2 separate regions of the Homo sapiens genome follow, and region 2 is linked to region 1. The links come from fine-mapping of genetic effects on gene expression. A gene starts in region 1. The other region holds a variant in brackets. All regions are shown on one strand. Distances are between the middles of the regions.

Evidence for each region. PIP is the estimated chance that this variant, and not a neighbour inherited with it, causes the effect.
Region 2: its variant is the best candidate, but not a certain one, in a credible set for the expression of RALGDS in skeletal muscle (GTEx, PIP 0.85).

The regions. Positions count from the first base shown.
Region 1 is chr9:133,118,315-133,123,682 of GRCh38, reverse strand. RALGDS (ral guanine nucleotide dissociation stimulator) reads left to right here and starts at 2,443. Exons shown (of 18, transcript NM_006266.4): 1 at 2,443-2,711. The coding sequence starts at 2,529. RefSeq lists a silencer at 2,154-2,863 and an enhancer at 2,843-3,539.
Region 2 is chr9:133,088,245-133,093,612 of GRCh38, reverse strand. It overlaps LOC124902343 (small nucleolar RNA U13), which reads right to left and starts at 561; the gene lies at 462-561. RefSeq lists an enhancer at 2,624-3,125. The variant T/C (reference allele first, on the strand shown) is at 2,660.

The DNA of each region.
Region 1 (5,368 bases):
TGTGTCTCATGTACAGCCAGAGCAGTGATCAGGCTTCCCAGAAGTTGGGAGGTGAGTCCCAAAGGTAGGGGAACAAGGCAGGAAGAGGAACTTTGTAAAAACAGACACCGGCCAGAGGGACTGGCTAAGTAACGCCCTCCCCCGCCCTGGCTCCTGTAGATGATATAGTCAGATGGGAGGGAGCCAGGCCAGCCGCGTTGGGGGGTTTAGTGTGATGAATTCTTTACTCTTCACCACTCCAGCCTCCTTGGGGCCACCCCTCGCCCCAGCACCCAGGACCTTCAAGGCCAGAATAGTGGTGATTCCTCTATGTCCTCATGAGTCACTTGTCCTTCTGGGCTATAAAACGGGTGGGCGCTTGTTCCCAGGCCCATCACTCAGCGAAGGAGATAAAGAGAGCAGAGGAGATAAAGTCAGTGGCAGGCAGCTTCTGGACTTTCAGTTTCCGGAGGCATTGGGAGCTTGGCCCCAGAAGAAAGGGATGGGAGGAGGAGCTTAGGGCCGAGGGCAGTGTCTCGGTCACCTCTTTGTGGCCCTGTGGGGACCTCCTGCCTCGAAATACGCCTCACCCACATTACCCTCCCTGGCCAAACGGCTTGGAGGCTTCCTAAACAGCCTCTAGGGATCTCCATCCCAAATCAAATCTACCCATCTTGCTTCTTAAAAAAAAAACAAAAACAGGCTGGGCGTAGTGCTCCTGCCTGTAATCCCAGCTCTTTGGGAGGCCGAGGCGAGCGGTTCACTTGAGGTCAGGAGTTCAAGATCAGCCTGGCCAACATGGTGAAACCCTGTCTCTACGAAAAATACAGAACTAGCTGGGCATGGTGGCAGGTGCCTATAATCCCAGCTCCTCGAGAGGCTGAGGCAGGAAAATCACTTGACCCCAAGAGGCGGAGGCCTTAGTGAGCCGAGATCACACCACTGCACTCCAGCCTGGGTGACAGTGAGACTGTCTCAAAAACAGCATTTATCACATAGAGCTGATTATTAAAATACTGATTTTAGAAATTAGAAATTCAGAGAAGTAAAATGAAAACCAGTAGAGCTTCCACCCAGCTGCAACTTACCACCATAATTTTTGTGAAGTAGGCCCTTCTAGTCGTGTGCACATGGGGGTCTTGTTCTGAACGGATGAACTGCCGCCTCACTCCAGTCACAGTGGAAGTGTTTCGTGGGTGTCTGAGGATTGGCACTTGGGAAGGGGGCAAGATGTGCTCGTGGAATGTGCTGTCTGGTCCCGCCCTCTCAGTTTACAGATGGAGAAACTGAGGCCCAATAGTACGGACCAGACCTGGGGAGGTTGGCATGGCCAGGGCTGCTGGCAGCAATTGCTGGCCTCCATGAAGACTGAAGGCTGAGGCCAGGGCAGGCCCAGTGATGAGTGAGGCATGAGGAAGGGTCCCATTCATTCATCCATTCTCCTGGCCCTGCTGTTAAGCCCCAGGCTGTCTTCCTTCCTCACTGGCTTCCAGAAAGAGTAGTTGAGGATGTCCCTGTCCCTGCTTCCCCTTCAGCCCCAGCAGCCCCACTTCCACCCTGAGACCAGGGATGTCCAAGCCACAAGCAGCCCCAGCTGACAGGCCACGCAGCCATGTGCTCTGCCCAGCGTTGTCACTCTTGATGCCTTCCTCCTTGTCAGATGCCTCTCAGCCCCAACCTTGGTGCCTTCCGCTCTCCCCCACCTCCCTGGCTTCCCCTCCTCTGAGGGTGTCTGTAAGGGGATAGTGTGGGGCTTTGCCCCAAAAAGGTAGGGCCCCACTCTCTGACCCTTTCCCCCACTGCACACACAGCCCCACACTCAGGATTTCCAATTGCACTGACAGGGTCACTGAACACATGGTCAGCCTCTCCAAACTCCGCCTGAGCCTGTAGTCAGGTGCAGGTGCTCAGTGCTGAGTGCTTCATGTCCATTACGTAATGTCATCCTCCCCGCAACTGTTTGAGGAAGTCATTTTCACTACCCAGATTTTCCAGATGAAGAAACAGTGAGGCTCAGAGGGGTTAAGCAACTTGTGGAAGGCCACAGAGTTGGGGAGAGGCTTTGCTGGAATTCGGGGTAGCTGACTCCAGGGCGGCTTCCCCACACATGATCAGCACGTACACATTTCAGCCCTACGCAACACACGCACTGCAGCAGCGTGACACGCAAACGGTGCCTAACCGGGGTACCCAAGGCCCCACGACACACGTGACAGCCGGTCCTCCGGGAGACCCAGCCAACGCGCACCCCTCGACCTCCCCGGCCCCGCCCTCTTTGTTCAGACCCCGCCCCTCCAGGCTCCCGGTCCCGCCCCGGGTCTGACCTCGGCGAGGGCGGGGCCGCGGGCGCGCGCACGCACGCGTCCCTCGGACTCTCCGGTTCCGCCCCTCCCCGGCCCCACCCTCTTCCCCTCCGGCCCCGCCCCCCAGCCTGACATCAGCAGGGCCGGGCCGCGGGCTCACAGCGGTGGCAAAGCCCAGCCGCGCGGGCCGCGCCGCCGCCCCCGCCGCGCGCCGGGCCGGCCCCGCGCCCGCGCTGCGAGCCTTCCATGGTGCAGCGCATGTGGGCCGAGGCGGCCGGGCCTGCTGGCGGCGCCGAGCCGCTGTTTCCGGGCTCCCGGCGGAGCCGCAGCGTGTGGGACGCCGTGCGCCTGGAGGTGGGCGTCCCCGACAGCTGCCCGGTGGTGCTGCACAGCTTCACGCAGCTAGACCCCGACCTGCCGCGCCCGGAGGTGGGTGAGCTGGGGCGGTCGGGCGGGGGGTGCGTCGGAGCCTCCCCACCCGCGGCAGAGCTGGGCAGGTCGGGGCGAGCCCCGGACGGGGCCGGGCGATCCCAGCGGGCCGCCTCCCTCCTCTCTCCTCCATAGGTGGGGGTCGGGGCCTTCTGCAGAAATCAGCCAGCAGGGTGGGCAGTGGGGGCTGCCGCCGCGCCCCGTCCAACAGTAGGGACCACGGCTGGGGTTTTGCGCCCCTCAATACCGTTCCAGGGCCTGCTGTCACCAAGGCCGCTGCAGCCCAGGTGGACCTTTTTCTGCGGCACTGTCCCTGTTTACATCGGTGGCCTGTGCCTTATTTCACTCAGTTCCCACCCAGGGCCCGCAGCGCGTCGTTAGCCTTTACGATGCAGGTGTGGAACAAGTGGTCGGGAAGGCCAAATCCTAGAATCCTCAGAGGTGATGAGACCATAGGGGCCTTCCAGACAGACCCTACTTGGGGCAGATGTGGATCTGGTGACCAGGGACATCGGGGCTGCTCAGAGCGGGGTGGGGGGGGGGTCGGGGGATGGGGTGGAGCAGCAGGCCTCCAACACGTGGGACCAGATGTCCTGGTGGTGAGGGGAGGAGGGTGGCCCAGGCCCAGGGCGGGCAAGACTTGTTTCTGCTTAACTGGAAAGAGTGCCAACACCCTGAATCGGTAAGGACTGGGTAGGATTCAGAGAAGGGAGTGGTGTACCTGTGATGGATGGAGGGGAGGGTGACTAGGTGAGGGCGGGGGCTTGTTTCTCGTGTGCCCTGGGTCTCTGGGTGGTGCCATCTGCCTCCCACCTGACTGCTGCTGACTACACAGCAGAGGGAGTGGAATCCAGAGATGCCCCCCTCGCCCTGCTCTGCCTGGGCACAGGGCCTGCACAGAGGCCATTCCTGGATCGGGGGCTCAGGGCCCATCAGAGCTTTGGCTGGGCTGCAGCCTTCACAGTGAACCTCCTGAGTCCCCGTGCGGCATCGTGTTGCCTTGCTGCGTCTCCAGTCGCTTCATGGCTTTAGACTGTGGCGCGTTGTGATTGCTGGCGATTGTTAGCCTGAGTCTCGTGCCTCTTGGTGTCCCGGTACCTAGACAGGGCCTGGATGCGACTTGTTTCTCCGCCCAGTGTTGGGCAGAGCTCTTGGTGGGGGAACACCACACGCCTGAGAGACCCTTTCCTCCTGAGCTTGGCAGATGGCCGGACCAGACGTGTTCCCTCAACCCTCATCTATCCAGGGCTCTGGTCCTCATTGGCGGCTGGAGAGGGACCCCTGGGAGGGTGGGGGTGGGAGGCTGACACCAGCCCAGCGCTCATCTGGCTTTCATTACCTCTGGCAGCAGCTCGGGCTTTGTGTGCTGGGAGGGTCCGGCGGAGCGCTCACAGTGGCCGTGCAGGTTCCCTCTCTCCGTCCCTGAGGAACTGAGGGAGAGGCAGAGCTGAGCCCCACCCCTGCCTGGGGGTCTTGTCTTCCCTCTCTCTGGCCCTGGCGCTCCTTGCCCAGCCTCAGCACTGAGATCCAGACCTCGACTGCTATTTAGAAATCAAAGGGGAAGCTTCTGGCTGGGTCAGGAAAACCAGGATCCTGGCAGGAGAGGAGGCCACTGCCGGAAACTGAACACAATGACCATTTACCAAGGGCCCAAGGGAGGGGGCGGGGAAGTCCCTGTCCCTCCTGCCAACACCCCCCGTCCTGGGGCTGGTTTCCTGGTGTCTATGTGGCCTGCCAGAGCTGACGCTGCGCACTTGGTCCCTGTCCTCTCTGGAAACCACCAGACAGTTTCTGCCTTCCCCCGCATCCCTGTTTCCCTACCTAGCTTCCACCCGGTGCTTCCCTCTGGGCTGCCAGATCTCCTCACATCTGGGCTTCCGCTTATCTTCCCGATTCTAAGCCAAGCCACCAATGACCCAGCTTGGCCTGCACAGTTCTTGCTTTCTGGAGGTGACCTGGTCCGTGCCCCCATCTCTGGACAGGCTGTTGCTTTGGCCAGACAAAAAGTGCAGGTTGTGGGCCACCCCCTCACTTCATCTGCCTTAGACCAACCCTACAGAGTAGGTGCCAACACCACCTTCTAGGAAGCTAGGGGGTCAGAGAAGGGAAGTCTCTGACCTAAACACCCGTGCAGCCAGCAAGGGCCGCAGCCAGGATTTAAGCATGGGCTGTGTTCTCTGTGGCACCTACTGTGTGCAGGAGCCACCAGGAGTCAGAGGAAGCCCAGGCAGCCCAGAAGCCCTGAGGTCAGGTGAGCAGTAGGGAAGCTTATGGCTCAGAGGAAGGCAAAAGTGCTTTGGGCCACAGGACGCTGGGGAGAGCTACCTGGAGGAAGCAAGCCCAGAACTGGACCCCACAGGTTTAAGATAACAGCTAATAAGAGCCAGCAGGTTTTGGGGAGGTCCTTGGCTAAGTAATTTGCATCATCTCCTTTTGGGGTCAAGACTGTTAAGAGCTCACTTGACAGATAAAGTCACTGAGGCAACAGAGGTGAATTAGATTGCACAGAGTGACCAAGCTGGTCAGTGGCAGGGCCAGGATTCTGACCCAAGGCCTGAGGGCAGTTGCAGGTGGGCTGGAGTGAAGAGGGCTTCTCTGTATTCACAGGGAGCATCTCCCTTCAGCCTCCCGCGTCTTCCCACTGTTTGATCTCTTGA
Region 2 (5,368 bases), 30 kb after region 1:
AGGATAGACCATATGTTAGGCCATAAAGTAAGTCTTAATTTTTTTTTTTAAGACGGAGTTTTGCTCTTGTTGCCCAGGCTGGAGTGCAATGGTGCAGTCTTGGCTCACTGCAACTTCCACCTCCCAGGTTCAAGTGCTTCTCCTGCCTCAGCCTCCCGAGTAGGTGGGATTACAGCACCCGCCACCACACCCGGCTAATTTTTGTATTTTTAGTAGAGATGGAGTTTTACCATGTTAAGCAGGTTGGTCTTGAACTCCTGACCTCAGGTGATCTCCCTGCCTCGGCTTCCCAAAGTGCTGGGATTACAGGCATGAGCCACTGCACCCAGCAATAAATTTTTAAAACGAAATTATACAAAGTATCATTCCAATTACAATAGGATAAAATTATAAATCCATAGCAGAAGAAAAACTGGAACACTCATGAATATGTGGAAGTTAACGCACTCTCTTCTTTTTCACGTCAGATGGGTAACGTGCCGACGTAAGGGTTTGAGGGTGACACATCTCACGCATGTGCATGAACACCCAATCATCATTGTTCATCAACTACAAAAGGATCTTAACACTCTTCCCCTCCCCGACTCCAGACGGAGTCTTGCTCCATCGCCCAGGCTGGGGTGCCGTGGCACGATCTCAGCTCACTGCAACCTCCACCTCCAAGGTTCAAGCAATTCTCCTGTCTCAGCCTCCTGAGTAGCTAGGATTACAGGTGTGCACCACCACAGCTGGTTAATTTTTATATATTTTTTAATAGAGATGGGGTTTCACCATGTTGGCCAGCCTGGTCTTGAACTCCTGACCTCATGATCCACCTGCCTCAGCCTCCCAAAGTGCTGGGATTACAGGCGTGAGCCACCGCGCCCAGGCTTAACACACTCTTAAACAACCAATGGGTCTAAAAGGAAGTCACAAGGGAAATTAGAAGACACCTTGAGACAAAACAAAAACACAACATACCAAAACTTACAGCATGCGGTGAAATTGAAAGCAGTGCTTGGGGGAAATTTATAGCTGTAAACGACTACATTAAAAAAGCAGAAAGATCTCAAATCAATAATTTATCCGCACACATTTAGGAATTAGAAAAAGAGCGAACTAAACCCAAAGCTAGCAGAATGAAGGAAATAATAAAGATTACAGCAGAGATAAACAAAATAGAGAATAGAAAAATAGAGAAAATCAGCAAAACCAAAAACTGGTTATTTCTAAAGAACAAAATTGACAATACTTTAGATGAACAAAGAAGAGACAAGACTCAAATTACTAAAATTTGGAATGAAAGTGGGAACATTCCTACCAACTTTACACAAATAAAAAGGATGAGAAGATAATGCTTTATAAGAGAATGCACCATTGCATGCCAGCAACATACAGTGGAATATTATTCAGTCATAAAAAGGCCAGGTGCAATGGCTCATGCCTGTAATCCCAGCACTTTGGGAGGCCAAGGTGGGTGGATCACTTGAGGTCAGAAGTTCAAGACCAGTCTGACCAACATGGTAAAACCCCATCTCTACTAAAAATACAAAATTAGCCGGGTATGGTGATGAGCACCTGTAATCCCAGCTACTTGGGAGGCCGAGGCAGGAGTATTGCTTAAACCCGGGAGGCAGAGGTTGCATTGAGCCGGGATTGTGCCACTACACTCCAGCCTGGGCAACAAGAGGGAAACTCCGCTTCTTAAAAAAAAAAAAAAAAGGTATGGTATGCCCACACATGCTACAACATGGATGAACTTTGAAAACATTACAATTCCACTTATGAGAAATATCTCCAAAAGGCAAATTCATGGAGACAGAAAGGATAGAGGCTACCAGGGGTTAGAGGGAGGGGAAATGAGGAGTTAGCTAATGGATATAGAGCTTCTATTTGGGGTGATGAAAAAATTATGGAAATAGAGAGTGGTGATGGTTGCCCAACAGTGAATCGAACTAATGTCACTCAATTCTACTCTTAAAAACAGTTAAATTAGCATCAGTTTTGTTATATAGGTTTTACCACAGTTAAAAAAAAAATAGTATCTGTAAGGACCATTTCCTAGCCCAGGTTGGTGGCTGCCTTTCTACAGCTTTAGGGGAAGAGGAGCATTTTCTGCTTGTCTTGCTGAGGTTTCTGTTGACCACCAATTAGGAACTTGTGGATTTCAAGGTCTAACTCTGGAATTTAGTCAGCACTAAGAAAAATTATAAACAGATAAAATGTACAATATGGAAAGTGGGGGGGAAAAGCTAAAGGAAGAGTGTTAGCCAGTGCACGGGCAGGACTTTGCCCCCTCAGTCCCTTCTAGAGGCCCGTGGTCCACCCTTTTTCTTAGACGGGAATCTTTGTTCCTAACCATAGATTTCCATTGCCTGTGCGTTTTCTCTCTGGGGAAAGACTTGTGATGCTGTGTTAGGGTTACAGTGGGCCTCATTCCATAAGCATTCCTGCCCACAGTGCCCACGTCACAAGGCCATGGTGAGGTCAGGCTCATCAAGTGCTCAGTGCAGTGCCTGGGCTTGGACCCGGAAGAGGTGGGGGTGGTCCCGACTCTGCCCCAACAACTCTGCCAGAGCCATTGGGCACCCCCAAGGGGCCCACCACCCAGCACCCTTGGCATCCTCTGCTTTCTACCCAGCACCCTTGGCATCCTCTGGCGTCTACCCGTGAACCAGGA[T/C]GCCAGCATTCCTACAACTCCTTGTGTGATTGATGTCATCCAGAAACACCTTGGAAAGCCCCATCCCCTGTGCCCTGCACACTGTGGCCACTCGTCCTGCTGGAGCCTCATGAATGGCCAGTGAGTGCTGATTGCCAGGATAAGGGTGCTGATTCCTGCCAGCAAAAGACCTCCATACTCTCCCCCGATGGCCAAGGTGAAGCACAGGTCCGTGTGGTGCTGAGGTCCAGTCTCAGGTGATCACCAATTTACAGAGTCAGTCGTGTTGTTACTGACCCATCCTAAAGGGGTAGCTGGGCCCTGAGCCTTTAGAGCTCGCAGCCCCCTGAGGTGACTGTATTCTTTGTCCACAGTCTAGGATTTAGTTATGTCCCGGTTGGGCGTAGGTGTGTTAAACACGCAACACAGGAGTTGGGGTGGGGGGAAGAGGAAGGCCACTGAGACTGAGGATCCACAAGCACAGAAGGCCACAGCCTTACAATGAAAGTGCTGAAACATGTCCCCTGTGACAGTAAACATGCGCTGGCCCGAGCTCACCCCAGTGCTCTTCCAGGCTTCCTGGAACTGGGAGCCAGCAGGACCCCAGATGGCCTCCAGCCTGTCAGTATTTTCAACTTCATCATCTGGAGTCTGTAATGGCAAGAGCCAGATTGCAGGTGACTCTGAGCTGTCTCCTCCCTCTCGACAGCTGCAGGCATCACCCAGACACACTGCAGGGCTCACCTGTGCCATGGAGGCTTTTAAAGTAGATTTTCTGTTGCTTATAACAGAATACCTAAAACCGGGTAATTTATAAAGAAAAGGAATTTCTCACAGTTATGAAGGCTGAGAAGTCCGAGGTTGAGGTGTTATAGGATGGAAGGTCCTGACTGAGTTGTCCAGGTTCTTGGTGTATTGAACAAAGAAGTGAACAAAACTCACAAAGTAACAAAAGAATGAAACAATGACAGACAAAACAGGCCAGTCGCAGTGGCTCACGCCCGTAATCCCAGCACTTTGGGAGGCCGAGGTACCTGAGACCAGCCTTGCCAACATGGTGAAACCCCGTCTCTACTAAAAATACAAAAAAATTAGCTGGGCGTGGTGGCCGGTACCTGTAATCCCAGCTACTTGGGAGGCAGAGGCAGGAGAATCGCTTGAACCCAGGAGGCAGAGTTTGGAGTGAGCCCAGACTGTGCCATTGCACTCTAGCCTGGGCAATGAGAGTGAAACTCCACCAAAAAAAAAAAAAAAAAAAAAGACAAAGCAACAAGAAAACAGCTTACCAAAGGCACAGATTGATTGAAGCGAACGTGCAACCCACAGGGTGGGAGCGGGCCCAAGCAAACGGCTCAAGGACCTCCCAATTGCAATGCTTCTCAGGGTTTTTATAAAGAACACCCCAGATGCCCTTTAGAGGCCTCCAATTGGTTACACCCTATGAAGGATTAGCCTGGGACCAATCAGAGGCTGAAGTGGAGGATTGGCCCAGGGTCAATCAGAGGTTGAAGTGGAAGCTCCTGACTTGTTATCACAGCAGTGAGGATGTGGCCTGTGTGCTCCCCAATCCTGCCTAGAACTGGCTGCACCTGCTGTTCTCTGGCTTATGAGAACGGGCTGCACCTGCTGTTCTCTGGCTTATGTGAACGGGCTGTACCTGCTGTTCCTTTGCTTATGCCCCAACCCTTGGCTTCCCTAATTCCCTCTCCTCCTGCCTCAGAGAGGCTGCAGCAGGTGAAGGCCTTCTTGCTGGTGGGGACTCTGGTGTCCCGAGACGGTACTGGGCATCACGTGGTGAGGATGCTGAGCCTGCTCACATGCTAGCTCAAGTCTCTCTTCCTCTTACAAAGCCACCAGTTACCCTCCCATGATAACCCACTAACCCATGAATCCATGAATGGATGAATCCATCTACGGGGACAGGGCCTCATGATCCAGTCACCTCTTAAAGGCAGCACCTCTCAATACTGCCACATTGGGGATTAAATTTCAGCATGAGTTTTGGCGGGGACAAGCATTCAAACCGAAGCAGAGGGATGGCGGGTGCAGCCCAGAGGTAGAACACGCTTGGATCCCCACAGCCCATCCCTTCTGACGTGGCTTGGCCATCCAGGGATGTGATTTTCTGAATGACAGACATGACTGTGCTTTCTCTCAACAAGAGACGGGTGCCAGTCCCAAGGGTTGGGAAGAAGCACTGGGGTCCCAGGGGTTTCTCCCACAGTGCTGGAGGCGCCTGAGAGCTGACTCCACAGGTAGAAACACAATAATCCCTGTGGGTACCAGTGTGGCCAAGGAAGGGACACATCATTGTATCCTCGGGCTTCCGTTGCCCAAGAGAACAGGGACAGTCACTGGGAGAGGCCCACATTGCCGGGCAGCTCCATCTCACTCAGTCTTTGACAGGGAGTCCCCTTTTTACACCAGAGACCCCTTGACCAACCCAGGAAGCCCAGGGTGGCCAAAGTGGTCACAGCCAGCCAGGGTGTCCCCTGCTTCTCCAGGGGACAGGGTTCGTCCCGGCTCAGCTCTGCTGCATGAGGCCACAGGACTTGTCGGCCCTGAGCCTTATCCTCCCACCTGTAGGCTGGAGGGGCAGAGAGAGTGGCTAGCTGGTCCTTGGGTGCTGCTGCCCTCCACCGCGGAGCCCCCCAGGCAAAGTTGCTCAGGATTCCAGAATTTTCTCTCATCTAAGCCCCACCCTGCCCCACAGTGCCTGTTTAGAAGGTA